Homo sapiens: one gene and its partners. The protein of the gene in region 2 purifies or fractionates together with the protein of the main gene of each other region. This does not show direct contact. Each region holds a gene or a part of one and is shown on either strand. Other genes may lie near its edges.

Region 1 (4,315 bases), on a different chromosome or scaffold from region 2:
ATGTATCTGCTGTGATGTCCTCTATTACTGTGTCATCAGACTCACCAGAACTATCAGCTTCTGTGATTTCTCCCAATGCAGAGCTCTGCCAGTCCATTTCATCTTTCAGGTGGTCATCAGGTAAAACCACTTTCACTGTGGCCACTCCAGAACCCAAAGAGTCACATTTCTCAGGTGGAGATCCAGGTAATTCTGCAAGTGTGTCATCCTGTTTCTGCATATTGCCTTGCACACCTTTGATACTGAATTCTTTTGTGGAATTCAAAGAGTCAGGTACAGGTTTTCCAGTAATAGCATTTTCTTGCTGGAGAGATGCTTCTGCCCAATCACCTGTTGATTTAGTGATGGGAGTGCTCCCATCAATAGAACATACAGGAGTTTTCTGATGAGTGCTAGTTTTAAGATTTACAACTGGAATTTCTGAATTATATTCACTCATGTCAAGTCCTGTAGTTTTTGTGATGCAGTCAGAAGATTTATCGGTCTGTTGTTTCACTTGGGGAACCAGATCCCAAGTCAGTATTTCGTTAGTAAAGTTATGCATATCATTCACGCATCTGGACACCTCTTCCAGTGCTGCATTTGTGTGTGAAAACTGCCTACTGAGCAATGCAGACATTGGGTAACGTCCTGCCTCTTTATTTCTCAGTGGAAAAAGCTTGTCATTAGTCTCTGAAATGTCTTCGGATGATTCTTTATCAGTGTGCACAGACCAGCTACCAAAATCATCTGTGCTCTCCTTATATGAGTCTTTAAATTCTTTGTCAAATGCTGCTTTGTCAATAATTACTTCAAATGGTGATTCAGGGGAATCCTTTTCAATAACATCATCTCCTGAAACTTTGGATGGAGACAAAGAATATGTATAAATGCCTTCTACCTTAGAGTACTCAGTAGGTGGTTTCTGGGCTGTCAGCAAAGTGAATCTGTCATCAGCATCCAATGCAGTTTTAGCCTCCCTACTTGATACCCCATTTGGGTTCTTGGTCTCTTTATCTATTTGCTCTTCCACTTGACCAATTTTCTTTGAGAGAAAAGCAGGATGCTCTGGGAAACTGGCTGGAATAGAAGGACGGTCACAATGAACTCCTGCTGCAAGAGAAACTGAAGAGTCTGATACGTTGTTGCTGGTCCCCTGAGGCTTTTCCATCTTTTTCATATCTAGAAGATCCAAGTGGTCTTTTCCTTCTTTGGCTAAAATAGGCTGGCTCCCTAACACATGGCTTTTTTCTCCATGTAGTATTGTAAGGCCAGTGTTATGTATTTCAGAAGATGAAAGAAAGGAAGAAGTCATAATTTCTGAAGATGGCTCATCAGAGCAAAGAGAGCTCAATCCCTCTATGATCAGAATTTCAAAGAAAAAAATTGTTTACCAGGTACAATTACACATTAGCTAGCCAAGCCAAGCAGCATGCTTTTTATTTTTTAAATTACATAAATATATATATACACACACAGGATGTATATATACACACATAAATATGTAACAAAACGATCAAGTTATCCTACAGGACATGCATAAAACTGCCAACAGTGAAACAGAAAAGCCATATCATGCCACAAACTGCAAATGATAAAAAATTTTCATGACAAATACTTTTGGTCTACTTTTCCATTGTACAGAGAAAGCATAAAGAAGGGCGGTAAGATTGAGAAATCTTGGGAGGTTTTTTATTCTTTGATAGAGCTAATCAACAAAAGCAAAATAATTTATACAAAACAAATAACCTGATACTATAAAGGGTTGATAGACTTCAATCTGTAAGCTGAACAATTCAGAGCACAGACTGCCTCTATAAATCTGTTAGTCTCACAATCTGAAAAGGAAAAAAACTAGTGGCCAGACTTTTTTGATTTTTAGGAGATGCAATGGGCCCTTCCTGAATCTGAAAAATGAGACTAGAATTATTCTATTCTATCCACAGGGAGAATCTGTCCCATGTACAAATAAATAGCTGTGATGTTCTAAACTAAAGGGTACTGAAAAAGGTGGACCCCCTCCAAAATCTTTTTTTTTTTTTTTTGATACGGAGTCTTTTTCTTGTTGCCCAGGCTGAAGTGCAATGGCGCAATCTCAGCTCACTGCAACCTCCACCTCCCAGGTTCAAGCCATTCTCCTGCCTCAGCCTCTCAAGTAGCTGGGATTACAGGCAGGCACCATCAAGCCCAGCTAATTTTTGTATTTTTAGAAGAGATGGGGTTTCACCATGTTGGCCAGGCTGGTCTCTTAACTCCTGACCTCAAGTGATCCACCCGCCTTGGCCTCCCAAAGTGCTGGGATTACAGGTGTGAGCCGCTACGCCTGGCCCCTCCAAAATCTCTTGTACTAACTTGTCATTTAAATCAATATTGTACTGTGCAAATTGATTTCTTTGGTTAAGACAGAGTTAACTTGGCTGGGTGCAGTGGCTCACCTGAGGTCAGGAGTTCGAGACCAGCCTGACCAAAATGGTGAAACCTCATCTCTACTAAAGATACAAAAAAATTAGCCGGGCGTGGTGGCAGGCACCTGTAATTCCAGCTACTCGGGAGGCTGAGGCAGGAGAATCCTTTGAACCCAGGAGGCAGACATTGATGGCAGTGAGCTGAGGTCACGCCATCGCACCCCAGCCTGGGCAACAAGAGTGAAACTGTCTCAAAAAAAAAAAAAAAAAAAAAAAAAAAGACAGAGTTAACTCCAGAATTACTTTTAAAATAGAAAATATCCTTCTCAAAGTAATACGTTAAGTCTTATCAGTTAATACCATAGTAGCCATCAATCTACCACACTGTTTTCTAACTTCCCACTCTAACAAATTTTTACTGGGGAAAAGGATCAAAACAAATATCCCAAGGGCTGGTGCTTTCTTACTTCATTTATTTGTTTGTTTGTATTTGAGAGAGGGTCTCCCTCTGTCCTCCAGGCTGGAGTGCCAGTGGTACAATTGTGGCTCACTGCAGCCTTGACCTCCTGGCCTCAAGCTATCCTCCCACCTCAGCCTCCCAAGTAGCTGGGACCACAGGCACATGCCACCACACCTGGCTAATTTTTAAACTTTCTTTTCTTTTTTTTTTTTTTTTGTTTTTTTTTTGAGACGGAGTCTTGCTCTGTCGCCCAGGCTGGAGTGTAGTGGCGCGATCTCTGCTCACTGCAAGCTCCGCCTCCCGGGTTCGCGCCATTCTCCTGCCTCAGTCTCCCAAGCAGTTGGGACTACAGGCACCCGCCGCCACGCCTGGCTAATTTTATTTTTGTATTTTTAGTAGAGACGGGGTTTCACCGTGTTAGCCAGAATGGTCTCGATCTCCTGACCCCGTGATCCGCCTGCCTCGGCCTCCCAAAGAGCTGGGAATACACGCATGAGCCACCGCGCCTGGCCTGATTTTTAAACTTTCTACAGACCTGGTGCCTCACTACATTGCCAGGTTGGTCTCAAACTACTGGGCTCAAGCAACCTGCCCACCTCGGCCTCCTGAAGTGCTGGGATTATAGGCATGAGCCACCACGCCCACCCTGGGCGCTGTCTTTCTTGCATACTGTTGTATCTTTGGAGCTGGGACAAAGTGGGTCTTAAATAAATAGCCCCAAATAAGTGAATCAAAGATTCAGCTTGGTCAGCTGAGACCTAAGTAGGCTCAGGACAGCAATGCCTTGAGCATGAATGAGTAACTGGGAAAATGTGACAGAGAAGTTCTTTTGGGATTACCTTTATTCAGCTTATGTTCCCTTTTTCATGTAAACATCCAAATACCAGATAAAAGCAAAATTATGACTTCATTCAAAATTATTTTATTAAAGACAAAAATATTTTACAATAAATAAAATTCCAGTATTATGAAAATGTTTTGAAATGCCATATAAAGTTCCCCTACTTCAACACATCACTGAAACTTGATGTAATAAGAGCTGAGCTTTAGAAATAGTATAACTGTAATCTGGTTATTAGAATAAAAAGTCTTTGTACATTCAAGGAAAACTGTAAAAGCTTGGTGGCAAAGCTATATTACCAAAACAAAACACTTGAAGTAAACTGTAATTCATATGTAGTTCTAATTTAGTAAACATGGTTTGCATCTACCATTATACAGTATGGATATTCAGCATGACTAGATTAGGGCATAACAGAAATGAAGCCCAGTATTGTAGGTTAAAAGGTTCAAAAATCTGAAGTGTGAAGTACTACAGATTACATTTAAATCAGAAATATTCCACAATCTGAGCCATGCATTGTTACTGAACTTACTAGTCAGTGTTTCTACCACAAAACATTCAGTGAACTAAGGTTATGGTAAAACTGTTTGGGAACCTCTCTCTTCAAACAACTCTGAGGTGAGTCAA
Region 2 (4,315 bases):
ACATCTTGATAGGCATCTGGGCGATGCTCAGCGAGAGGGGACCTGCTGCTCAGAAGGTCCATGGATGAGGCCAGGGGGAACTGGTGATTCACCGGCATGTTTCTGGGAAGGCTTGCAAATTTTCCTGCAGCCATAATTCTCAACTCTAAGGGGGAAAGAAAAGAGTGAAGGTATAAATCTATGAGAGTCACAAGAACTGACTTCCTACTTACAAAAGGAAATGGAAATATGCCACATAAAATGAAATATTCACAGACCATTAACAGATCAACATTTAATGGCATCACTAGTGGAGTCTAATAAGAATGGGAAGTTTACTTATCTTCCTCCTGAAATGATCCTACATAGGAATTGTCCTGGGTTGGCAGCAAAACCAAGAGGGCAAACACTTTCAGAGTTGTTAGAGGCATATAAGCCATGCACAACCAGCAAAAAAAGATGATTAAGAGAGGACTCATAGTTGCAGTAATAAATGTACGAAAGAAAATATTATAAACTGTTAGATAATTAGCTCACATTATTTTCACTGCCCTGTAAATGATAAGAACAGGCAGGGATTATTGAAATTCTTTAGCTGCTAGAATTGTCTTCAGTGCCAGACCAGTCCTCAGTTGTGCTACACAGGATGGGACAGAATTTTTCTGGCAAAGACCCAGTGTTTATAAATAAATCAATGCACTCTAATTAGTGAACACGGGCTAGGGTCAGGGTCAGGAGGTGGGCCATTCTGCCATACACCAGCAGGCTCAGCTGCAGAGGAAAGCCACTGGGGTGGGGGCTGCATGTACATGGCCCCCACAGAGGGGTCAGGATCTGCCTGCCACCAGCAGGGTTAGGTAATGCCCATGGGTGCCTGTACAGTCGGGGAAGAAGAGACAGGAGAAGGGAAGAAGAAAAGAAAAAAAATGGTGGGGGGCAAAGGAAGCATGGAAAGGGAAAGGAGAATGGCACGTCAGGCTGTGTGCAGCAAGTAGCCCCGACACTCTCTCCTATCTAGGACCATGAGTAGAAGCATTTACCCTGAGCAGAGTCAGTGCCTCCAGCTCCAAAGCAAACTATGGTTTTGGCCTAAGACAAATTATATAATACATTTTTAAGGCCAACACACAGAGGAAAAGAAATAGGAGACAAAAAAAAAAAAAAAAAAAAAAAAAGGCTGGCCCCTGGAGATAGAGGCTCCAGGATCTGTCTTATACTAGTCATGATATCAGACTCTGGTCTGGACAGCACTGCAGGGTGGCCAAGCCCAACATACAGCCCTTCCCACGGGCTGGTGAGGAGAGCTGCCCCTTAGTCTGTTCTCCAACCCAGCAGCCCTCTTTCCTCACAAACCACCCTTTCCACTGCATTACTCAGGGAAGAGCTTTGCATGAAAATCCTCACTTAATAGCACTACTGCAGAGTCAGTTCTACAAAGGAACTGCGGACTTGGGACGTGGTTTGAAGACAACCAAGAAGAATGCAACCCTCCACAAGCTGATAGAAGTGGAGCCGAGACAATGACATTAGAGTGTGTAAAGAAAACGCATGTGTTTGTATGTGTGTGTACAACAAAACACACACGTTCCACTGCTTCCACATGAGATAGGGGAAAGTACAGAAGTCCTGGGGGTGAGATGGAAGGAGCATCTTTACTGAAGGTGTACAATCTTAACTCTGTCCTCGGTTCATTGTCAAATCCAGTAATTCTGGGGGCTGCCTGCTCCACGTCCAACTGGGACCACACAGAAGGTCTGCTCACAGTGGGTGCAGAACAATAGGACAGAGTCCTGTGCAGCCCCTCCCAGCTCTGGCCAGTACCTGGCACACTGTCAGCACTTGCTCAATGCTAACCATCCTTATTAGAAAGGAAACCAAACTCCCTAGCCCCACCGCCTGAACACAAGTGACGTAAACCGACTAGGATTCTTCCACCCTACACACACACATACACACCACAGTTGTGACTTCTCACAGACAGGACTGGGTCATTTCAAAGAACCTCGTGGGGAGGCCTGCAGCACCCTACAGAACTTCTTCATGTGCATAGGGCCACACTGTTGATCAAATCTATTTCCAATAGCATGATGGGCAAAAGTCACCCTAGCACCACTGCCTTTGGCAGCCTGTTTCCTCTCTGCTTCCCCAAGATCTACTTAGACTTCAAGATTGTCCTAAAGTGTTCTAAAATGTCCTTCAAGTTACCAACACCTCAATTTATTCTCCAATAACAAGGGATGTTAATACTTCCCCTTCTTACCTTCAATTCAACAAACATTTAAGTGCCTATTTCATACAAGACACCTGGAGAAACAAAGATGCCTAAGGCCCAATACCTGACTATGAACTCTAAGAGAGAATAATTCATAGAGGCCCTTATGCTGAAAGGAACAATTAATTTTGACAAAAGGACTTGAGAAGGCTCAGAGAGGGCAACAATAGAGACAAAGCATTTTGAAAAGTTAACATGTGGGGAAAAGCCTCCCGGGAGGATGGCAGATGCATAAAGGCATGGAAGTGACCCCACAGGCTCAGGACATTCCCAGTTGTGTGCTGTGGCTCGAGTGAAGCCGAGAAGCATTTCCCAGAAGCAACTTAGGTTAGCATCAGACCATGGAGTCTTGAAGGCCCTGCCAAGGTGTCTGGACTTGACTGGAAGTGCTAGGGAAGATCTGGAAGGGAAGGACCGAACCCAGTCTGTACCCAAGTAGGTGACTCTGGTTGTTCTGGAGGGGAGAGAAAAAGGAGGCAGGGAGGTTACTGAGGCTGATGGTGAAACCCATGGAGGAACAATGAAGAATTCTGACCTGGGGCAGCAGCTGGGTAAAGGGAGAGAAAGGAGAGAGTGATGAGACATCAGAGCTTGAGGCATCTGGCTGGAAGGAAGGAGCCTACAGCCACAGAAGGTGGTGCGATGCTGTAACATGCCAACTAGTTTCAGAAGGGGACCCACCCCTGCAGGAACCAAGCACAGCACTGGAGCTGCTGCATGTGAGGTATCAGCAAACAATTTGGTCTAAGAGGAGGTTAGATACTGGTATGCACAATTAGAAGTGAGGGCAGATGGAGATTTTTAGGAATCATCAACATAAAGGCAATATTTAAACCAGAGAGTAGATCCCTTAACTTGTTATTATCAGATGTGATAACAGCTGTGAAGTACCTCTTAAACTGTCAGGAATCATACAATACCCATGAATTATACCCCTGCTCTCTCTTACCATGGCTTCTTCAAGCCTATAAGGACCAAAGCAAGGAATGAGTTCTACTATAAAAACGTAAACCATTGGTTCTCAACCTGGCTACACATAAGAATCCTCTGGGAAGCTTTTAAAATCCTGATGCCCAAGCCTCAGCCCAGAACAATAAAATGAGAATCTCTGTGGGCGGGACATTAGCATCAGTCTCCAGTATTGACCAATGTGAAGCCAGGATTGAGAACCACTGGATTAGTGAGTCTTTTTGGTACACAGCAATTGAGTCATAATTGTTTACCTGCAAAACAGAATTCAATGATGATGAAGGAGTATCATTCAATCAATAGAAACATTGATTCTTCAATGCATACATTCATGGAGGGTCTCCTTTATGGCTGGCACTATGCTAGGTGTTGGGGACAGCATTAAACAAGACAGAAGTGGTCTGTCCTCATGAAGCTAATAATACTCTGGAGGAAGCAGACAATAAATTATGACCATAAGTACTGGTAATTCCCAGTCCATTTTTCTAGATAAGGGAAATAAATGTTCATTTGATATATATTCTCTGAGGGCTTATGGTGTACCAAGGCTAAGGATATAATAAATTAGACAAGCTCCTGCTCTCATGGAGGAATCCAACCTATACAAACAAGAAAATGAGTTAACATCCAAGTTGTAAGCACGCTAAGGAATATAAACAGGATGAACTGACAAAGGATGACTGTTGCGGGTGGAGAGCTACTTTACATTAGGGTGGACTGGGAAGGCCTCTCTGAAAAGGTAACAATGACATGAGACCTGAAAAAAGGCAAGGGAAGGAGCCAGTCAAAAAAAGGTCTGAAGGGGGTTCCAGGCAAGGGATCTGGCAAATGCAAAGGTCTTGCCATAGGAACAAGCGGTTGGAATGACAGCTGATGGAGACTAAACCCAAGTCTCCAGCCTCTGGCTCCCATGTTTTCTCCACTTGGAAATATTTCTGTCTCAATGTCCCTAGTCATTATATACTTCTTATGTACCATTTGATTTTTTAAAAATAAAATGGTATGACTCAGAACCTAGGCTTTGGAGGCAGATATCTACAGGTTCAAATCTCTACTCTGCCACTGACTTACCAGCTGTATGGCCTGGGACAAGTT
Region 3 (4,315 bases), on a different chromosome or scaffold from region 2:
TTAATATGTACTAGACCAAAAATCTAAACAAGTTCTCTCTGCCTTTTTTCTCTATTTCTCCCTGGTCATCTAATTATAAAAAGTATTATATCTCCTGTCAGTTTTTGTCAAAAAATAAAAATAAACTAGAATATAGAGCAGGCATCAACAAACTAAGGTCCTTGGATCAAATCTGGCCATGTCCATTCATTTATCTACTGTCCATAGCTGCTTTTCTGAACAGTTGGGTAGTTGCTACAAAGACTTTATAGTCCACAAAAGCCTAACAAACTTACTATCTGCCTCTTTACAGAACAAGTTTGCAAATCTCTGGTGCAGAAAGTTTAGATAATATATATGATGATGATTTCATATTCATATAATTGTAAGTAAATTATAAATAAATAAAACTTTGGACCCAATAAACAGAATACAGATTCTATTCAAGTAGCTGCATAAACATTAGTAAAATTAACTATGTATGAAGATACAAAGTAAAGCTCAATAAATTTTTAAAAGTACATCATATAGACCATATTCTTAGATTGGAGTGAATAGAAGTACAAATTAATCATAAAAACTATCCACTTAAGAAAAAACAAAGCACTTCTAAATAATTCTTGGGATAAAAAAATTAAACTGAATTTTCAAACCAGTTAGAAATAGCAATGAAAACACACACACACACACACTCACACACATGCACACACACACACACACACACACGCCTTTGGGAGTTGAAAGCTAAATGTTATTGAGAAGAAAATATATAAATAGACTTAAGTGTGATATTAAAAAGTGAGAAAGATCAGAAATAAATAAAACTTCCAAGTCAAGAGTCTCAGAAAAATCTAAAATAATTCAACAGAAGGAATAAATGCATAAATTAGTGAAACAGAAAACAAGAAATAAAACAAAAACTGACAGTTTTTGGGGGATCATTGTATAAAATTCCCAAATACATAGAAAAATATGGAACATTACCTAATTCATTCTATAAATAGCACAGAAACTTTTTAAAATCAAAGAAAAAACGATGTGCATGTGTGAAGAGAGAAGGTTAAATAAAATCAGTTGAAATGTGTTTTTTTTAAAAAACATAAAAAATTTTAACAAGTCATGGCTAGGTGGTGTTTATACTGGTTATCCAAAAATAGTTTGAAATTCAAAATTAGGAAAAAGATTAATATAATTCATTAACAAATAGGAGAAAAGCTTTATAAACACAATGATATGTGCTGAAAAAGCCGTGGAAGACATTTAACAACCATTCCTGTTGTTGAATATCAAGAAAAATAAGAAAAAGTCTATAAACTGATAAAATGTTTCCATAAGAAATATATAGCAAGCCTCATAATTATTAAGCAGATATCTAATTAAGAGATAAGTTGGACATAGATCCTATTATCACTGGCAATCTTCAACATTATTCTAGAATACATTATCAAACACATTTAAAAGTAAAATAAGAGAATTATATATTTGAAAAAAAGGCAGCACATCCTCAGTCTTTCTTTTAAAATAGATGGTATAATAATTTCCCAGGAAAATGTAAGATAAATGACTGAACAACCATTGGAATGAATAAAAAAGATCAGGGTGGTGATTAGATACAAGAATGAAATGAAACAGTCTCTTTCTTATTGATCATCAATAAGCAGTTTGAAAATCCAATGCGAAAAAAAGAACCTGTTCACAATTCTAACAAAAGTTGTAAAATATCAAATAATATATTTAACAAGAAATGTGTAAGAATTCTATGAAGAAAAACCATTGGCAGACATAAAGGAAGATCCACATATCCAATTAAACAATGAGCAAAGGACCTGAATAGATATTTTTCCAAAGAAGAAATAAAAATGGCCAAAAGGTATATGAAAAGGTATTCAACACCATTAATCATCAGGGAAATGCAAATCAAACTATTATGAGATACCACTCACAAACAGATGGCTATTCTCAAAAAGTCAAAAGATGGCAAATGTTGGCCAGGGTATGGAGAAAAAAGAACCTTTATACACTGTTGGTGGGAATGTAGATTGTTACAGCCATTACAGAAAATAATATGCAGGTTTCTAAAGGAATTAAAAATAGAAATACCACATGACACAGGAATCCTTCTTCTGGGCATACACAAAATAAATGGAATTACCACTTCGTAAAGATCTCTGCACTCGTATGTTCATTGCCACAATATTCACAATTCACAATAGCCAAGAGGTGGAAACAACTTAAGTGTCCATCAATGGATGGACACCAATGGAATAAAGAAATTGTGAAATATGCACACATACACAACAGAATATTAGTGAGCCTTAAAAAAAGGAGATTCTGCTATTTGTCATAGCATTGATGAATTGGAAGGACATTATACCAAGTTAAATAAGAAAGAAACATATTGCATGATCTCACTTATAGGTGGAATCCTCTTTTGTCATTTAAAAAGGTCAAATATGTAGATACACTGGTGATGAGAGGCAGGAAAGGGGGTGAAAATGGGGACATGTAGGTTAGAGAATATGAAGTAGCAGATATGTAAGATGAACAAGCCTAGAGATCTAATGTACAACATAAGAACTATCGGTAATGAAATTGTATCGTATTTAGGATTCCTGTTGCAAGAGTAAATTTTGGCTGTTCTTGCCACAAAAACAAACAAACAAAAATGTGTAACTGTGTGAGATAATAAATATGTTAATTTGCCTCACTATAGTAACCATTTTACTAACTATTCATAACCCATAACATAATATTGTACACCTTAAATATGCACAATAAAATTTATTTTTAGAAAAGAAAGCCTATATAAATGAAGATAAATATTATGTCAGTTTCCCCTAAACTGTAAATTCAATGTAATTCAAATAAAAATTCTGATATAATTATTCAAGCTAATTAATAAGATGATGTTAACATTTATGGGATAGAACACTCAAGACAATTTTGGAAAAACAAAATAGGAGGGGTGTGTGGTGTCTCACACCTGTGGTCCCAGCACTTTGGGAGGTCCAGGTAAGAGAATCACTTGGGACCTGGAGTTGCGAACAACCTGGGAAACATGAGAGAGACCTGGTCTCTATAAAAATTAAAAGTTGTAAAGAAAAAAAAAAACAGGAGGGAAGATTTGTCTTGATAGATGTGGTGTCTTATAGAGTAACAATAATTAAATTTGTATGATGTTGGTAAAGAAGATAGGGCTGGGTGCGATCGTTCATACCTGTGATCCCTTTGGGAAGCTGAGGCAGGAGGACTGCTTGAACCCAGGAGTTTAAGACCAGCCTGGGCAACATAGGGAGACCCTGTCTCTACAAAAATTTAAAAATCAGCCAGATGTGGTAGCACACATCTGTCGTCTCAGCTACTCAGGAGGCTGGGGCAGGAGGATCACTTTGGCCCAGGAGGCCAAGGCTGCAGTGAGTTGTGATCACACTACTGCATGCCAGCCTGGACAACAGAAGCAGAATGAGACCCTGTCAAAAAAAAAAAAAAAAAAAAAAAAGAGAAGAAAGGAAAGGAAGAAGAAAAAGAAAAACAAATAGGTCAAAGGAGTAGATTAGAAAACCCAGAAACAGGCTCCTGCACCTAAAAGAACTTCCTATATGAGCAATGGGGCATTTCAAATCATCCAAAACAGACTATTCGACTCAAAGAATAACAACCTATTTGGTACAAAATAAATATGGATCCCCAACACACCAAATACATGAATAAATTTGAGACAAATTAAAGATAGATATCAATATTTTTAAATGTAAAGATAATAGAAAAATGAAGAATATATTTTACAATTTGGGGTAATGAAGGTTTTCCTAAGATGGACATAAAATTCTGAAGTGATTTCAAAAATGAAAAAAATATTGATACAGCTAAGTTCACAAAACTTAAATATAAATAAATATTTAAAACATAATATTCAAGATTTTAAAGAAATGTATAAATAATTTAGAAAAATAGAAACCTGAGCTAAAGATTCTTTTAAAAAGCAGGTTTCAGAAAAAGAAACTCAAATGTTTATTACTATATAAAAATACCCTCAACCTCATTAATCTTTAAATTTGCAATTTAAAGCAATGAGATACTAATATTTACCTATTAGTTGAAATTTTAACAGAGGGATAATATGCAGTGTTGGCAAAATATGAATTTTATATATATACACATACACATTTATATATACCATAGGTGGTTATATAAATTTATAAACACTTTTGCAAGGCAGTATCTATCAACATTTCAGACACATATACCACTTGATTGAGCAATTTTGCTACTAAGAATCTATCCTACAGAAAAATTGGACATATATATATAAATATATGTGCAAGGACATTTATTA
Region 4 (4,315 bases), on a different chromosome or scaffold from region 2:
CACCGCTCTCTCCCTCACTTCCTCACCATGGCGTGGGGCCCGGCCTCGCCTGTGTGGCCCAGCTCCAGGCAATGGAGGCCAGCATCCCGGTAACGCTTCAGCACCTGGGCCAGGTCTGGCTCCTGCACCTCCAGCACGAGGCCTGGCTCCTCAGCGAACAGCACAGACAGGACTGGGAGAGCAATGTGGGGAGTCAGGGGGATGCAAGAAGGGCCAAGGGAGTTGGGGCGGGATCAGGGAAATGCAGGAAGGGCCAGGGTGAGGGTCAGAGGGATGCAGCCAGAGAGTAGGGTAGGGATCAGGGAGGATGAGGGCTAGGACGGCAGGACTGAGGATGTTTCATCATGGACATCTCAGGGATGGGAAGTCTCAGAGGGGTGCAGTCAGGAACATGGTGGGTGTCAGCCAGTTCCATCCAGTTCAGCTGTCAGAGAGACAGCACAGAAAAGCTAGTCAGGGAAGACTCAGGGAAAGGGGACTGGAGGGCACTCCACTCTTTAATATATTGGAAATGGGGTCTGCAGGGTAGAGAAGGCAGCCCGGGCCTGAGACTAGACCCCAGGTTCCTTACCATCAACCCTGGGGACAGGCACATCCACCTGTAGCCCGCAATTTCCAGCAAAGGCCATCTCCAGCAGGCATGTGACGAGGCCTCCGTCACTGACATCGTGGCCTGAGCAGAGGAGGCGGTCTGGAGGAAGGAGAAGAAAGCTCAGCAACCTCGGGACCCAAACCTGACAGCCCCACCCCACCTTCCGGAGTCAGTCCATCAAGAGTGTGTGTCAGAATGTCAGGGGATCTGGGGTACATCGTCCATTGGAGTCCCTTTTGCCCCACTGCTCAGATGGTGAACGCCTGCTGCACGCCTGGCACCCTGTGCGCTATCTCCCCAGGGGTCTTCACTCACCTTTCAGCAGCCCCTGAGTGATGCTGAAGGCCCGCACCAAGTTCTCAGGAAGGTCCAGGTCTGGAGGGTGTTCCCCAAGCTGGGAGAAGCACTGGGCCAGAGCTGTGCCCCCGAGCCGGTGCTGCCCAGGGCTCAGAGCCACATAGAGCAGATGGCCTGGGGAGACGGGGAGGGGTGAGGGGAGGGGAACAGCTCAGGAGGACCCATCCCTGAGGGGCTCACAGCACTGCTATTCCCAGCATGTGGTGAGACACCTAGACAATCAGTCCCAGAAAACACCACAGCCCAGTGTTGAGATGGGGGCCCAGCACTCACAAAGCAGGAGCCAAACAAAGATCACACAAGCAAAGATCACAAAGGATGGGGCCATGTCCATACCTCTCCCTTCAGGATGCTTGAGGTCTGGGGTCACAGTGGCTGTGATGTCTGGGCAGACGGCATAGGCTGAGATGACCAGTGACCCTGTAGAGCAAGGAGGAGTCCAAAGGAATGAGTTGCCAACCCAGCTCCATAGTTCCTCCTCCCCTCCCTGGGGCTCCCACACCTCACCAGGAGCCCGCACGGTCTCAGTGCCAACCCGAGCAGCCATGCTGAGGGAGTCCTTGCCACCATCCACTGCCACACCCAGGGCTGCCATCACTGCCACCATAGCCTCACAGGCATCCGCCAAAGCTGCGCCCTCCCCTGGGAGCTTGGCTGCCCACATCCAGTTCCCGCTACACTTCACATCCTGGGGGTGGCAGAGGCACAGCATTAGAGGGGAAGAGAAATGTGGAGAGGCCAGGGGTGCAGGCGGACTGGGAGGTTGCAACATGAAATGAAGGGCTACAGATGGATGTGGAAGGGTCCTGAAGCCCGGGGGCTCCAGGATAGAAGCTGTGGGAGAACTCACCCGGAGGTCAGTGACCAGAGCAAACACCAGGTTGGTGAGGGCTTCGGCCACGGCCAGCCGGGCGGCGACTTTTGGGTCCAGCAGGCTCTTGACTGGCTGTTCTCCCAAGGCTGTGGCAGCCCCTATGAGCTCCTCATGGCTCAGTGCCACAACCGCTACATCTGCCAGAGGAGTTTGCAGGGGCCCCACGCACTGCTGCTGGGCCACCAGGCCTCCCACAGAGCGGTCCACCTGTGGAACCAGGTGGGGTTAGCAAGAGAGCAAGGGACAGGGACAGCCTGAGCTCCCGCACATGCCCCCAAGGCACTCAGGGCAGTGGGAGGCCTGTCTTTCCCCCAATGCAGACAACAGCTCTACTTAGAAGGTGGGTAGCAGGGAGACCAGGCCATCAGGGTGGCTGCCCTGCCCCTGCTGCTTCCTGCAGGGCCAGGCAAAAACCCCCACAGCACTTTCTAAGGGTGGGAGGGCAGAAGAGGCTGAGCGGAGGAAGGAGGCAGGGGGCAGAGGAAGGGTGCAGGGAGGACCTTATTGGTGAGGTAGCGCTTGCTGGCCACGGCGGGCAGCCTCAGAACCCTCTCCAGAGCCTGGTGCACGCTCAGCCCTGGGGGCAAGGCCAGAGGCTGCAGCATGGGGGGCTTCCTCTGCAGGAAGAACTCCTGCAACACAGACAGCGACAGGCAGTGTGAACACCTGGGGCGGGCTGGGCACACAGGCGACAAAGTGCACGTAGGGTAAAGGGTGGTGTGGAGAGGACCACAGGAAAAACCCATCCCCTCAACCCCACATACCTTCCGAGGCATCTTGCCCAGCACCCATTCGAGCTCCAGGTCCACAGGGGTTGGCAGGGGTGTCGGGGGGGCATCCCCCTGGCCATTTCTTCTGACAGGACACTCCCGATCGTCCACCAGCACTATCTATAGACCACAGGGACCCCACCCAGAGGGGATGAGACTATGAACACCAGCAAGGAATGTTCCTAGAAATCAGGGCACAAATGTGCTTTCCACTCCTTGTTTGGTTTCCATATTGAGTCCCTGCCCCTCCTTGGATCCAACATTCCCCACAGCTTGTTTGCCACTACCTCCCATCTTCCTCTCGTCTCTCTCCCTTGACAGCTCTCCCTCTAGCCCATACCCAGGTGGCTCATGTCTGCCCCAGTGTTTGCTCCCAACTCCCTGGGCCAACTCACTCTCCGGTCTCCAGTGATGGTGCCCACGAAGCAAGCCGGGCAACGTTCACGGGCACTGACATGAGTCAGGAAGTCCCGGTTGGGGGACCTCAGCAGAAGAGCATTTGATTCCTGGTACTCAGCCCCCCAGATTTCCAGGGCATTCAGGGTTGGGTCCCCAAGCTGCACAGCCACGGCGGGGAGGAAAGAGAAGGGCCAGTGGGCACTCCCACGTCTCATGTTGTTGCAAGAGAGATGGGTGGAAGCGGGCTGGGGCTGGCAGGGGTGGGAAAATGTCACACTTCAGGGGACGAGACCCACCTGGAAGCGGCTGGTGTAAATGATGGCTCCAGCTGGGTCACTCAGCTCTTTTAGGACATTGCCTGGTGAGAGGGTTGCAAGGAGAAGCAGTGACCTAGTGGTGGTCAGGCAACAAAGGGCAGTCCCTGGCCTCCAAAGGGGCCTGTAATTTGGTGTGTTCCTGTGTCAACTGCTGCCGCACCCTTACCACCAATCATCCCACGGCAGCAGGCTTCCACCCTTCCAACCCTGAACCTGTCTAGAATGTACAGAGCATGGAGAATGGGACCCAGAGCTGGGTGGTTGGTTGGAGATTCCTGATACCTCTCCCTAAACGAAACCTGGCAGGATACCAGGCAGGCCCAGTCTCTTGTTCCAACTCCTTTCCTCACCATTGCCACCAGCGCCCTGATCATGAAGGCTGCAGATGGGGTTTCCCTTGGGGGCCTCCACACAAGCCCTGATCACACGGTTCATCTTCTGTTCCATCTCCGGGTCTCCTCGCTGCACAGCCCCAAAGTCCAGGTCACTGGTGTTATCTCCCTGCACCTGGGGGCATATATGGCATAGCTCAGCTCAGCGAGACTGGAAGCTCCTATACGCTCCCCTATGCCTGGGGCCCGGTTATATCAAGGATTCTGCACCTTTAGCAATTCCCACTCACCTGCACAGATGAAGCAGCTCCACCTCCAACTCCAATCCTGTAGACGGGACCTCCAACCTTTACAACTTCCATGCCTGTAAGAAGGGAAGGCAGAATCAGAACACTGGGGAAGCCACGAGAAGAGGCCTCGAAAGCAAGGCAGCGTGAACACAGAGGAAGCTGATGTTAGGGAGAAGCCTGACCAGCTTTTTTTTTTTTGAGATGGAGTCTCGCTCTGTTGTCCAGGCTGAAGTACAGTGGTGTGATCTCAGCTCACTGCAACCTCCGTCTCCTGGGTTCAAGCGATATTCCTGCCTCAGCCTCCTGAGTAGCTGGGACTACAGGCGCCTGCTATCGTGCCCGGCTAATTTTTGTATTTTTTCAGTAGAGACAGGGTTTCACCAT
Region 5 (4,315 bases), on a different chromosome or scaffold from region 2:
CCAGTTAGGCCTATGAGCCATGAGCATCTACTGTACCACAGACATTAGTTAGTACTTTTTACAAAGTGAATGGAGTGTTTCCATTCATTTGACAAGTGCTTCTACCTACAAGTTCTTCTACCTTACTCCAAAGGAAGTAAAAAGTTGTAATACCATGCAAGTTTCTATGTGAGAGCATAGAGAACTGGATAGACCTTTACGTATCAGTTCAACCTTTCATTTTAGAGATAATTTTGAAGGTCAGGTTGATTAATAGATTCCTCTGTTGTCACACAATGAGATTGTAGCCGTGTCATTAAAATTTAGGCTTCTGTTAGTTTGGGAACTTTTTCCTCTACCTTCTACAATGTTGATCTAGATTACATTGTAATTTATCAAGTCTTCAGTTGAAAAATATTCTTCAAGAACTATAAAATTCTAAGTTGAATTACATAGCTGGGCGTGTTGGCTCACAGCTGTAATCCCAGCACTTTGAGAGGCCAAGGCAGGCAGATCACCTGAGGTCAGGAGTTCAAGACCAGCCTGGCCAACATGGCGAAACCCTGTCTCTACTAAAAATACAAAAATTAGCCAGTCATGGTGGCGCACACCTGTAGTCCCAACTACTTGGAGGCTGAGGTGGGAGGATAGCTTGAACTCGGGAGGTGGAGGTTGCAGTGAGCCAAGATTGAGCCACTGCACTCCAGCCTTGGTGACAGAGCGAGAGTCCGTCTCCAGGGAAAAAAATAAAAGGTTGAATTACATAAAACATTGATGGGCTTTAGCTCTGGAGTTAAGTCACTGATCTGCACTGAGAATACTTTATGAAATTTTTACAAAAGTCCAGAATAACTTTTTGTTCTGTGAAAAATTATAACATTGATAACAGGCTATTTAAAGATTCACATAATTAGTGGTGAATATGAAAGGGAAGGACAAAAAAGACATGTTCCATTTGCGTCAAAAGGTTTTTCTTTGAAGTTTTGTTATAAATCTTTTTTTTTTTTTTTTGAGACGGAGGAGTCTCGCTCTGTCGCCCAGGCTGGAGTGCATTGGCGCCATCTTGGCTCACTGCAAGCTCCGCTTCCTGGGTTGACGCCATTCTCCTGCCTCGGCCTCCTGAGTAGCTGGGATTACAGGCGCCCGCCACCACGCCTGCCTAATTTTTGTATTTTTAGTAGAGACGGGGTTTCACTGTGTTAGCCAGGATGGTCTTGATCTCCTGACCTCGTGATCCACCCGCCTCGGCCTCCCAAAGTGCTGGGATTACAGGCGTGAGCCACTGCGCCTGGCCGTTTTGTTACAAATCTTAAAGATTATTTTACCCTTCTTTGAAAAATTGAAATGATCCAGTATGGCCCATGTGTAATCTACATTTTCAGAGTAACTCTATTCTTAGAATCTTGGGGCTCCATATTGGATCATAAGATAAAAGTCATGTTCTTCCCAAAGAATATAGAGAATATGATTATCCTTTTTATCAGTTCTTTAATCTCCTGAAAACTGTTTTACACCAATATGATGAAATACATTTCTCTCTGCCAAATTCATGTTATGTTTTGTGAAATGCATGTATTTATTTTATTGACTCCATCTGATCTCAGGAGGAAAGAAAACATTGTTTATAACCTATGGTAAAGTTAGTAGGAGCATTGAAAATAGAAAGGAGTTTGTTGTTTACTTTCTGTTTGGTTCTTTTCTCTTGATCCTCAGATAGGAGTTGTATACATTTTGTTGTAAACCCTTAGACATAGAGAGCCACCAACACAGCAAGCCTGGCTAGCTTAAAGCCTTCTAGTGGTAGGTTTCTTTGAGATTTACAGTGTAAAGGGTGTATACTTTTTCTTCACAGTGTAGAATGTTGCCTACCTTCGTTGAGATGTCCAGGCTGTTATAGACTATTATTTCTCTAGCTGTGCATTTAGATGTATAATCTGGCTCACCTACTCAACTCTGCTCTAGTCACACAGCTTCCTGCAAAAACCTCTCTTCACTTGCATCTCTGCTTGCATCTGTGGCCATTCCCTCATCTGGAATGCCATGGCCTCCTCTTTTCTTCCTGTGAGTGCTTTATCCTCAAAGCCTTTCCAGATGACTCTGACCTGTACTGCTTTCCCTCCTCAGAACTCCTGTAGCTTTTACACTCTGTGTGCTCTGATATTTCATCACTTGATGATACTTTATGTTCGATGTTGTATATTGGGTGTGTAATGTTTTTACTCACATTATATGGAAAGTTTTATTAAATAGTCTTTCATTTTACCTCTATATTTGTTATAAATATTATCATAGGCATTTGCAGAATTTATTCTGAGGTTAGCATTGTCTGTCAAAGAAAGGATCTGGTGTACATTTTAAGCAGGAAGAGGAACAGAGAAGTTATTTAGTAGGCCTTTTTTTTTTCCTTTGGAGTCTACATAGCTTAGCTTTGTAGAAAGAGAAAGGTGGGTGTATTAAGAGAAAACTCGGTGTGGTGACTTGTGCCAGTTGTCCCAGCTACTCTAGAGGCTGATGTTGGAGGATTGCTTCAGGCCAGGAGGCCAGCCTGCGCAACATAGCAAGACCCTGTCGCTAAAAAATTAAAAAAAAAAAAACTTATTTGTTGGAGAAATTAAGATTATTCAAACCATTGGAAATTGATAGTGCTTATTTATCAGAGTTGCCATATCTGCTTAAACAGGAGGCATTCAATGTCAAATGATAATGTTCTGCATTTTCAGGATCTTCCAGTTAGGTTCTTAGGTACATTTTTGGAATTTGTTGTTTTTATCATTATATTTCAGAAAAATAGAGATACATCAATATAAAAAAACAATATATAATAAAAATAGTGTTTATTTTCCTGTTTTCAAATTAGATTCGTGTGTACTTATATATGTGTGGACTTTTTTTTTTTTTTTTTTTTTTAAGTCAAGGCCTGGCCGACAACACCGTTATTGCTAAAGTAAATAATGTTGTGTGGGACCTGGACCGCCCTCTGGAAGAAGATTGTACCTTGGAGCTTCTCAAGTTTGAGGATGAGGAAGCTCAGGCAGTAAGTTGCTGATTAGTATTCATTGAATTTTAGGATGCAGATTCACATTTGAAGTCTTTTCCAGCTCAGTCCTGCTGCGATTGGGTGGCTAACATTTATTGTTGTCTCACTGTCATATTTGAAATCTTCATTTTGTCCTTCATTTAGGGAACATAATAAAAGTGCTTGCCTTAGAAAATAAAGGGGTGAAGCTGAATAAGTCTTTTCATTACTAGACACTTCAATAGGGAAAATGTTTTGGGAATTGTATTAAACATTGATTAAGCAAGTAAAAATTGTTTTCTAAACTGTGAACACTATTTTATTTTAATTTTTTTTTTTTTTAATGATGGAGTCTTGCTTTGTCACTCAGACTGTAGTGCAGTGGTGCGCTCTTGCCTCAGTACAACCTCCACCTCCCAGGTTCAAGCTATTCTCCTGCCTCAGCCTCCCAAGTAGCTGGGATTATAGGAGCGCACTACCACACTTGGCTAATTTTTGTATTTTTAGTAGAGATGGGGTTTCACCATGTTGGCCAGGCTGGTCTTGAACTCCTGACCTCAAGTGATCTGCCCACCTCGGCCCCCCAAAGTGCTGGGATTATAGGTGTGAGCCACTGTGCCTGGCCTCTAAGCTATGAACACTCTAGCAAGATATGTACATTTGACAAATAAATTTGAACCTTACTTCAAAGCACTGCCTTTATTGGATAATTTCTGTATTTTTTTCTCATCTTAAGATGCAAATCTGCTGGATAACACTATAAAAGTCAACCTGCATGTGATGACAAGATTTTCTTTTTAATTCTCCATGGCTGTGTATCATATAAGGGGAGACAAAGTATTTTGTTTTAGTGATGATTGTTCACTTATGTATGTGGATTAGTGGTTTTCAAATGTATTTTGGAGCCCTCAAGTTTCTTACGAGAATTTTTTAATGTCACTTTGGTACCTTAATACTAAATCTTGAAAACATTGCTTTGGGTGTATTCTGACTCATCCCAGTGATTACTTTAAAACCAAGTACTGCCATTTGATTTCAGTGTACAGATGTTTGTCCTCGTGTTTTGTCATTGTGTTGTGGGGTCGGGTTGTACCACCTTTGTTTTGGGCCAGTAACAACATGTAATTTCTAAGTGATGTTCCATAGCCAGCTAAAGGCCAGATCACAGTGTCTGAGACATGGTGCTGTGGGCACATTGACTCAAAAGAACCTGGGCCATTGCAATCAATGAGTTAGTCACATTGTGAGTAGCAGTTGTTTTCAGAGAACAAAGTCTATGTCATTTAATTAGTGATGCCAAGTTTAGTTTAATTTGTTTGA
Region 6 (4,315 bases), on a different chromosome or scaffold from region 2:
TAAAATCTACGATACTGGTCTTTCATCTTAGGGTAGGGAGGGACATGGACATGGATGGACACACACACACACACACACACACACACACCCACAAGCTCTATGCCCTCGTGGCATTCTCTCCCAGCATGAGAGCATGTGTCATGCTGGATGCTGTAGCTTACCATATAAGCCCATGTTCTTGGCATATGATTGGCAGAGGCAAACATTAATGCCCTGTTCGATGAAGTGGCGCACAGCCCAGGCATCCTTATCACCATCACCACTGGCAAAGCCTTGGTAGGCCATGTCAAAGAACGCAAAGAGATTCCTTTTCTGAGAAGGAACGAAAGATCGAAGCTTTAGCAGTCTTTCTGAAGAGGCCCCAGATGTTTATAAAAGTCTGAAAGATGTTTATGTGAGGTGGGCATGGTCCCAATAAGCACAATAAGCCTTTTCTGGGGCTAACGTAATCCTGGAAGACTCAACTTATACCCAGGACTCACGAGACAACATCATTAGAACCATTTTATCTTGAAAGTGCTCTCCAAATGCTGTTTCTGTCTCATTCTGTTTGCAGCTTAGATTTGACAGAAGTTAAAGAAAGGGAAACTGGCCAGGCATGGTGGCCCATGTCTATAATCCCAGCACTTTGGGAGGCCAAGGTGGGAGGATCACTTGAGCCCAGGAGTTTGAGATCAGCCTGGGCAACAAAGTGAGATGCTGTCTCTGTGAAAAATAGGAAGAATTAGCCAGGCAGGTGTGGCACACATGTCTGTAGTCCCAGCTACTCAGGGGCTGAGGTAGGAGGATTGTTTGAGCCCTGGAGGTAGAGGCTGCTGTGAGCTGTGACTGTGCCACTGCGTTCTGGCTTAAGGCGACAGAGTGAGACTCTGTCTCAAAAGAAAAAAAAAGAGAGAGAGAGAAAAGAAAGGGAAATGAAAAGGAGTGAAAAGGGAAAACAGGGACATGAGACAACAGGAATAACATTTTCCTCCCTAGGAATTTTGACTAGTGTCTTCTCTGACAGCTGGCTACACTTTGAGAGTGATCATGGCAATGCTGCAAAGGAGAGGACATGAAAAAGTGTTTAAAAAGATCAATAAGCAACCACTGACCAGGGCGAATATAGGCATCAACAGCAGACATCCTGGGGCCAGTGGACAGGTTTTATCAGAGTTCCCTACATCCAGGATGAGGAAAAAAATTATTTTCTTTTTTTCTTTTTTAGAGACAGAGTTTTGCTCTTGTTGCCCAGGCTGGAGTGCAGTGGCACAATCTCGGCTCACCACAATCTCCACCTCCTGGGTTCAAGTGATTCTCCTGCCTCAGCCTCCCAAGTAGCTAGGATTACAGGCATGGGCCACTACGCCCAGCTAATTTTGTAGTTTTAGTAGAGACGGGGTTTCACCATGTTGGCCAGGCTGGTCTCGAACTGACCTCAGGTGATCCACCTGCCTCGACCTCCCAAAGTGCTGGGATTACAGGCGTGAGCCACCGCGCCCAGCCAAAAAAAATTACTTTCAAATACTCATGCGTCATCAATCCCAGAACTGCTAATCACGCAAATGGGGAGCCCTTTTCTGGCAGCTTATCCACCTGTGTGGACATTTCACGCAGGTTCGAGGTTAAGACTCTCTGTTGAGACATTGCCAAATTAAGCCTCCAAAGCTGGTTACTAAACACAGAACTGTCGCCAGTGAGTTCATCGTCCTCACCTTCACCACTGTTGCTATTTCCTTCCACTGTTCCGGACGCGGGTCCACTCCCGTGGGATTGTGGGCGCAGGCATGCAGAAGAAGAACACTCTGCTCTGGTATTTTCTAAAGAGAAAAACAGCCAAGAGACGACTTTGCAGCTTTAAAGGAAATGGTTTATCTGAAATGCCACAGGATCGTCATCATTTGATAAGTAACAAAGGTAACCAGAACCCTGGGAATCAGCTCTTCCCCAGTATTTTAACTCAGATATTGGGACATGGTGGGAGACATCAAATGTCCGCAAGCAAGGAGTTTTATTCACCTCTCTCACCCTGAAAGCCACACTTACTGAAATATCCTCCACAGCGCCTGTGAAGTCAAAACCGCAAGTCTTGGGGTCATAATACCGATAACCTTGTAGCTGCATGCCAGCATCCCTGAAGATGGGTGTGTGGTTTCCCCAGGTTGGTTTGGGCAGAAAGACATCTCGGCTGAACTTAAAAAATCTTTGCTAAAAGATGGGACGAAAGGAAACAGAAAAATGAACAAAGGAGAGGCAAAAAAATGTTGATGTGTTTTATTGAGAGAACATTTTTCTCTGCTGAAACCCAGTTTCTCTCTATGGTTGAGAAGCAGTATTGACTCAGCAGTAAGACTGCCTGGGTTGGAATAGTCTCTGACAGTTATACTGGCCATGTAGCCAAGGACCTTTCTGGGTCTTGCTTTCTTCACTTGTAAAGGGGGTTAATTGTACCTCTCTCATAGGGATTAAACAAGTTAAAATGCAAAAGCTCCCTAGTAAATAGTAAGTTCCTAGTGAACTGAATTTATCATCATCACTAATATATCTTTCCTGTAATTTCTTCAAAGTCCTTTCATTTTTTCATGAGAATAGGACATCTGCAAACTTCACGGAAAGAAGAAATCTACTTCTGCATCAACAGTCAAATACACACACAACAGGAAGCCCTGTCATCTGGAATTTATAATTCTTTCCTGAAGAAGCTTCCAGACTCACCAGAAAACTGGCTCCGATCCTTAAGGCTCCAGTTCCAGAAATGGTCTGCACAGTGACAAACTGAAGGAGAGATACCCACGGTCAGTGATGTGCAACACTCTCTATACAGGCCCAGACCCAGGGCCACTGCTTTGTCCAGGACCTTTCATACTTCAGAAGCTCATTCTTTATGGCCTGTCAGTATCATTTCATGTTACACGGGAAACTTTCAGAACACAAAAATTCCTCCTCAATATGAAAAAGGGGTGAATTATATAAAAGATATAAAAAGACACTGAGAGGCTGGGTGCGGTGGCTCATGCCTGTAATCCCAGAACTTTAGGAGGCCAAGGCGGGTGGATCACCTGAGGTCAGGAGTTCGAGACCAGCCTGGCCAACATGGCGAGACCCTGTCTCTACTAAAACAAAAATTAGCTGGGCATGGTGGCGCATGCCTGTAATCCCAGCTACTGGAAAGGCTGAGGCATGAGAATTGCTTGAACCTGCGAAGTGGAGGATGCAGTGAGCCGAGACTGTGCCATTGCATTCTAGCATGGGCAAAAGAGTGAGACTCTGTCTCAAAAAAAATAAATAAATAAAATAAAAAGACACTGAGAACAGTCACTACATTAAAACATTACTTTAGAATTATACAAAGTAGAATGACTCTCTAAACATCAAAGTTCCTTGAAAAGCAAGTCAACAAGTATACAAGGATAACATTACAACATTTTAAAGGTTTTCTGGCCGGGCGCAGTGGCTTATGCCTGTAATCCCAGCACTTTGGGAGGCCGAGGTGGACGTATCACCTGAGGTCAGGAGTTCGAGATCAGCCTGACCAACATGGAAAAACCCTGTCTCAACTAAAAATACAAAATTAGCCAGGTGTGTTGGCGCATGCCTGTAATCCCAGCTACTCAGGAAGGCTGAGGCGGGAGAATTGCTTGAACCCAGGAGGCGGAGGTTGCGTTGAGCTGAGATCGTGCTATTGCACTCCAGCCTGGGCAACAAGAGCGAAATTCCATCTCTAAATAAATAAATAAATAAAGGTTTTCTAAGAGGTCCCCTTCTATGTGTTTTCATAATCTGAAAATATTCATGTTTTGGGTAATAGGAAGATGCCTAAGGTGAATCTCCTTATTCAAATTGGTCAACTTTAAGGGACAAACAAGAAATTACCATAGGTTTAAGAGGTTTTTGTTTGTTGTTTTTAAAGGTGTTGTAGAAGTACAAGGCTCTACAAAGCACAAATGTATTTTTCTGGACTGGGGTGGTAGTAGATTAAAGAGGGAAAAACCCAACTAAAAAATTATTTTAAATAGTTTGTCCTGCAAGCTTTGGCATGATGGAAATAAAAACCTCACTGTAGGTCCGATGATACTACGATTCACAAAGGCACAACAATTTTTTTTTTTTTTTTTTGAGATAGGTTCGTGCTCTGTCACCCAGGCTAGAATGCAATGGCATAAACTTGGCTCACTGCAACCTCCACCTTCTGGGTTCCAGGATTCCTCCCATGTCAGCCTCCCCAGTAGCTGAGACTACAGGCGTGCACCACCACACCTGGCTAATTTTTGTATTTTTAGTAGAGACGGGGGGGCGGGTCTCACCATATTGGTCAGGCTGGTCTCGAACTCCTGAC
Region 7 (4,315 bases), on a different chromosome or scaffold from region 2:
ATGTTAGGTGACATCCTCTTCCTCCTCACACAGCATATAAAGTAGGATTTCTGTGTGGGTACTCAGCACAAATTCTATTTTAAAATATTTCATTTTAAAATTTTCATTTATGTTTATTTTTATTCTTAATGACTAGAGGTAATAAAGTAAAGGAAAAATGAGACTTCCTTATAATAGCAAAATGTGGGAAATAATGCCCATTGGGAGGAAGTTTCAGATGAGGGGAAGAATGGGATCTGGTGGCAGAGTACCTCGGTCAAGCCCAGTGTGGCTGTCACTAGCTTTGATCCTGGGCACCTGTGGTCTCTAGAACCCACAGCTTCCTCGTGTGTTAAAAAAAGGACAACAAAATCTACATGAAAGGACTGATGTACAGATTAAATAAGATCTATAAGCAAAAGTATTTCATAAAGTGCTAAGTTTAGTAAATGCTATTTTATTACTAGTAATATCACTAGTAGCATTATGTTACTAGCAGTAGCACAATCTGAAAGTCCTCCCCTTCCTCCTCCTCCATCAGGCTTAGCTGTCACACACTCCTTCTTGAGAAACAGTGGAGACAAAGCTCCACCTGTCACTACAACAAAGTTGACCGCTCTCACGCACTCCTTCTTAAGAAACAGTGGAGACAAAGTTCCACCCGTCACTACAACAAAGTTGACCTACCTTGCCAGGACAAGCCCATTCACAATTACGTTCTTGAAAGGCGGTTGTCCAAAGAGGGCCGTGGCCAGCACCAGCAGGGTATAAAACCTGAAAAAAAACCCCAAACAGTTCAATAAAAATAGAAATGAAGTCCAAGCATAAGAAAGAAACTGTATTTATTCATTGAATTTCTATTTTTGATAAGTCACACTTCTTGAGAATCACTTAAAGCAATGATTCTTAATCCTGGTTACTGGAGACCAATCAAATTACTGTCTAAGATTTGAAAGAAGCATTGAAATAAACGTCTGGAATGATTTACTGACCATTTCTCTGTTACCAGAGCTCCCAGGAAGTCTGTGTGGAGAGCCACATGGCAGCACTGGGTGGCCTCTCAGGACCACCCAGAAGCACCTAGCTGAAGATGAAGGATGGGTTTTGAATTTGGCACAAGATCATATGGAAAAGACAATTTGATGACAAAAGATGCAAAATGCACTCTCACCCAAAAGTGATAAGGCAGACTAGAAAATGCTTTTATTCTGTAAAATGTTATGTACCTCATTTATGTGCTACCTAGCTTGTTTCCCAAATGAACTCATATCCCTGACCACTGTCCTGGGGGTGATGCTTTCCTGCCTCTCTTACCTAGTCCTGCACTCTGAGAACATCAAGGGACATGAGCTGAGGAGACCAGACCCCATAGTTAACATAAACACTGATCCAGATATCCCTCCCACTTCTAAAGGAGAGTTGGGAGGAGCCCTGGTGCCCAGGAGAGGTAGCCCAGGCCTCAGGAATGGAGAAGGAGGCAGGCACCAAGGACACGGGATCCACATGAGGACTGTTACCAGCTAACAGACTTTGCTACTCCTCAAAGGAACAAGCTCATTGGTAAGGCATCTACCCCTTTCTAAAAACAGAATTTGTGCTGGGTAGCTGTTCCTATAGACAAAAAGGACTGGAATCTGAAGACAGCACATTCCAGAACATGAAGACTTGAATTCAATGATTACCCAAAGCTGTCAAAGAGAGAAAATGACACCAACAATTCCTTTAACACACCCCTGCAGAAACATTACTGTGAATGTATAATTAAAACCTGGGCTGGGCGCAATGGCTCACGCCTGTAATCCCAGCACTTTGGGAGGCTGAGACGGGTGGGTCACTTGAGGTCAGGAGTTCGAGACCAGCCTGGCCAACATGGTGAAACCCAGTCTCTACTAAAACTACAAAAATTAGCTGGGCATGGTGGTGCATGCCTGTAGACCCAGCTACTTAGGAGGGTGAGGCAGAAGAATTGCTTGAACCCAGGAGGCGAAGGGTGCAGTGAGCCGAGATCACACCCCTGCACTCCAGCCTGGGCAGCAGAGTGCAAGATTCTGTCTCAAAAAAAAAAAAAAAAGTAAATAAAGCCTGGGCCAGCAAAGCCAATCCATGGAAAGAAAGTAATTCACCTTCTTCCAATTAAGGAACTGTTTTACATAAGGCACCAGATAAAAATCAATGCCCAAATCCTCTCTCATATGTATATTTTTTAAAAATCTGGATTTTTTTAGAATGTTGATTTATAAGGCTAGCCTCAATATCTGAGCACATTACCAACTATCCCTCAAATTTCTAGCACCCAAACTACTGTCTTTTATGCAAATACTCAAACATTTGAGTAAATGATCTGACGTAAGCTAAGAACACATAACTTTTTTTATCATTTTAACATCCAGTGTAACACATATATTCCAAAATGCCAGTGAGATCATTGAAATTGTAAAACTACAGCCCTATTGTAGTGGGAGAGTCCTACTCAAAAGGCACTTTAATGTCCGTGCTTGGTGGTGGAGGGGAGAGGGCAGGAATGTAGCCTGTCTTATTTGCCACAATCTCTCCATCACCCAGTAGATAAATGGCAGTGACTTAGTAAAATACTCCCTAAATAAAATAAAATCAATAAAACACGTGATGAAAGAACAAGGAGGCATACCATCCTCTGGTTTGGTCGATGCCCTCGGCAATGAAATCTGCAGGAAAAGCATCCTCAAACTCCCTCTTGTTTTCAAACGGGTAATGAACCTGAGCATAGGGCATGCTGCCACTCTCAAACCAACAGTCAAACACTTCAGAGATGCGGTGCAAGGATCCCTTCCCACAGCGTGAAGGAATGGTCAGGTGGTCAACACTAACAAACAGAAAAGTAGTCATTTCTATTAACTGTAAGCATAACAGAACTTGCAGTTTAATTGCTAATAGGAAACACAAAACCCTGACAAGATATTATACACATTTGCAAACAGAAATATCAGCAATTCTCAAAGGCTTTCAGAGAGCACCATGAATCCTCCATCTGAAAGGTTATGCACCATTCACCTCACATTTCACAAGGACAGAGGCCACAATACTGCAATATGACATGAGTCATCAGCAAAGTAATTCAGCAAGCTAGTCACTTCCATGTGTGGCTCTGTAATCTGCTAGAGACCAGGTCTTAATAGGAGAATCGTAAAACTGAAGTGAATCGAACATTTAGAAACTGACCTCTCTCTGTGGAGATCTGAGATCTTTGCTCCTGACAGTTCTTCAAGTTCCGCCACTGACCCAATGCATACCACCTGTCAAAAACAAAGTTCAATAGCAGGAGCTCCTTAGAGCCAAACAGAGCATACTGAGTTAATTTATATAGCATGCATGTTTACTTTGAGAGACTGATGATTTTCTTTTTCCTTTTTTTTTGAGATAGGGTCTCACTACCATTGCCCAGGCTGGAGTGCAGTGGCACAATCACAGCTCACTGCAGCCTCAGCTTCCTGGGCTCAGGTGATCCTCTCACCTAAGCCTCCCAAGTACCTGGGGCTACAGGCAGGCACCACCTCACCCAGCTAATTTTTTGTATTTTTAGTAAAGACAGGGTTTCGCCATGCTGCCCAGGCTGGTCTCAAACTCTTGGACTCGAGCTATCAGCCACCCTCAGCCTCCCAAAGTGCTGCGATTACAGGCGTGAGCCACCCAGCCTGAGACTGATGATTTAAAGGCACATTAACACACCAATCTGGGCCGAAGGATAGTATTTGCTAATGTGGCTTCTCTCTCATGAAAGACACAGCCTACTCTTAGTCTCTGAAGAGGCCAGGGTTGCCACTGCTCCTCTGTTTCCACCCCAGTATCAGAGGGAGTCCCTACCTAGAGAGAATCTTAAACATTCATAGCCATACTCTCAATGGATATTAAGGGTTTATTATGTGCAAATTGTCAAAGTAACTGGCATAAGTGAAACATCTTAGATTATTTCTCTAAGGCATTTTAGTTTCCTCCTGGCACCTGAATCTGGCTCATTAATCTAGAATCTTCCCAAGAAAAAGCTAGAGCTAAATTATAGTCATACAGTGCTTAATGGTGGGAATACATTCTGAGAAATGCATTGTTAGGGTGATTTCCTTAGGCAAACATCACAGACCTAGATGGGATGGCCTAAAACACAGCTAGGCTATATGGTGGAGCCTATTACTTCTAAGCTACAAACCTGTACAGCATGTGGCTGTACTGAATTCTGCAGGCAACTGTAACACAATGGTAAATGCTCTAGTTTTCATATGGTTTGTCCCCAGCAAATCTCAAGTTGAAATTTAATCCCCAGTGTGGCAGTATTGACAGATGGAGCCCGATGGGAGGCATCTGG

The links.
Region 1: the proteins of BCAR3 (region 2) and RTN3 purify together in Homo sapiens (co-immunoprecipitation; one large-scale study listed by IntAct). This does not show direct contact.
Region 3: the proteins of BCAR3 (region 2) and LPXN purify together in Homo sapiens (co-immunoprecipitation; one large-scale study listed by IntAct). This does not show direct contact.
Region 4: the proteins of BCAR3 (region 2) and PFAS purify together in Homo sapiens (co-immunoprecipitation; one large-scale study listed by IntAct). This does not show direct contact.
Region 5: the proteins of BCAR3 (region 2) and TARS1 purify together in Homo sapiens (affinity purification with mass spectrometry; one large-scale study listed by BioGRID and IntAct). This does not show direct contact.
Region 6: the proteins of BCAR3 (region 2) and GOT2 purify together in Homo sapiens (co-immunoprecipitation; one large-scale study listed by IntAct). This does not show direct contact.
Region 7: the proteins of BCAR3 (region 2) and IARS1 purify together in Homo sapiens (affinity purification with mass spectrometry, with the first as the bait; one large-scale study listed by BioGRID). This does not show direct contact.

The regions. Positions count from the first base shown.
Region 1 is NC_000011.10:63,715,725-63,720,039, reverse strand, and holds part of RTN3 (reticulon-3), read right to left. Parts: intron 1,339-4,315; coding exon 1-1,338. UniProt on the Homo sapiens protein: May be involved in membrane trafficking in the early secretory pathway. Inhibits BACE1 activity and amyloid precursor protein processing. May induce caspase-8 cascade and apoptosis.
Region 2 is NC_000001.11:93,674,797-93,679,111, forward strand, and holds part of BCAR3 (breast cancer anti-estrogen resistance protein 3), read right to left. Parts: intron 146-4,315; coding exon of another isoform or gene 135-145; coding exon 1-134. UniProt on the Homo sapiens protein: Acts as an adapter protein downstream of several growth factor receptors to promote cell proliferation, migration, and redistribution of actin fibers.
Region 3 is NC_000011.10:58,555,087-58,559,401, forward strand, and holds part of LPXN (leupaxin), read right to left. Parts: intron 1-4,315. UniProt on the Homo sapiens protein: Transcriptional coactivator for androgen receptor (AR) and serum response factor (SRF). Contributes to the regulation of cell adhesion, spreading and cell migration and acts as a negative regulator in integrin-mediated cell adhesion events.
Region 4 is NC_000017.11:8,262,610-8,266,924, reverse strand, and holds part of PFAS (phosphoribosylformylglycinamidine synthase), read right to left. Parts: intron 4,006-4,315; coding exon 3,932-4,005; intron 3,817-3,931; coding exon 3,660-3,816; intron 3,351-3,659; coding exon 3,289-3,350; intron 3,151-3,288; coding exon 2,989-3,150; intron 2,714-2,988; coding exon 2,588-2,713; intron 2,456-2,587; coding exon 2,324-2,455; intron 2,031-2,323; coding exon 1,800-2,030; intron 1,638-1,799; coding exon 1,457-1,637; intron 1,370-1,456; coding exon 1,286-1,369; intron 1,064-1,285; coding exon 908-1,063; intron 692-907; coding exon 572-691; intron 425-571; coding exon of another isoform or gene 402-424; exon of another isoform or gene 173-401; coding exon 27-172; coding exon of another isoform or gene 15-26; exon of another isoform or gene 1-14. UniProt on the Homo sapiens protein: Phosphoribosylformylglycinamidine synthase involved in the purines biosynthetic pathway. Catalyzes the ATP-dependent conversion of formylglycinamide ribonucleotide (FGAR) and glutamine to yield formylglycinamidine ribonucleotide (FGAM) and glutamate.
Region 5 is NC_000005.10:33,450,400-33,454,714, forward strand, and holds part of TARS1 (threonine--tRNA ligase 1, cytoplasmic), read left to right. Parts: intron 1-1,941; coding exon of another isoform or gene 1,942-2,040; intron 2,041-2,889; coding exon 2,890-3,013; intron 3,014-4,315. UniProt on the Homo sapiens protein: Catalyzes the attachment of threonine to tRNA(Thr) in a two-step reaction: threonine is first activated by ATP to form Thr-AMP and then transferred to the acceptor end of tRNA(Thr).
Region 6 is NC_000016.10:58,716,502-58,720,816, forward strand, and holds part of GOT2 (aspartate aminotransferase, mitochondrial isoform 1 precursor), read right to left. Parts: intron 2,755-4,315; coding exon 2,695-2,754; intron 2,188-2,694; coding exon 2,026-2,187; intron 1,800-2,025; coding exon 1,695-1,799; intron 313-1,694; coding exon 162-312; intron 1-161. UniProt on the Homo sapiens protein: Catalyzes the irreversible transamination of the L-tryptophan metabolite L-kynurenine to form kynurenic acid (KA). As a member of the malate-aspartate shuttle, it has a key role in the intracellular NAD(H) redox balance.
Region 7 is NC_000009.12:92,262,303-92,266,617, forward strand, and holds part of IARS1 (isoleucine--tRNA ligase, cytoplasmic), read right to left. Parts: intron 3,252-4,315; coding exon 3,178-3,251; intron 2,822-3,177; coding exon 2,627-2,821; intron 754-2,626; coding exon 667-753; intron 1-666. UniProt on the Homo sapiens protein: Catalyzes the specific attachment of an amino acid to its cognate tRNA in a 2 step reaction: the amino acid (AA) is first activated by ATP to form AA-AMP and then transferred to the acceptor end of the tRNA.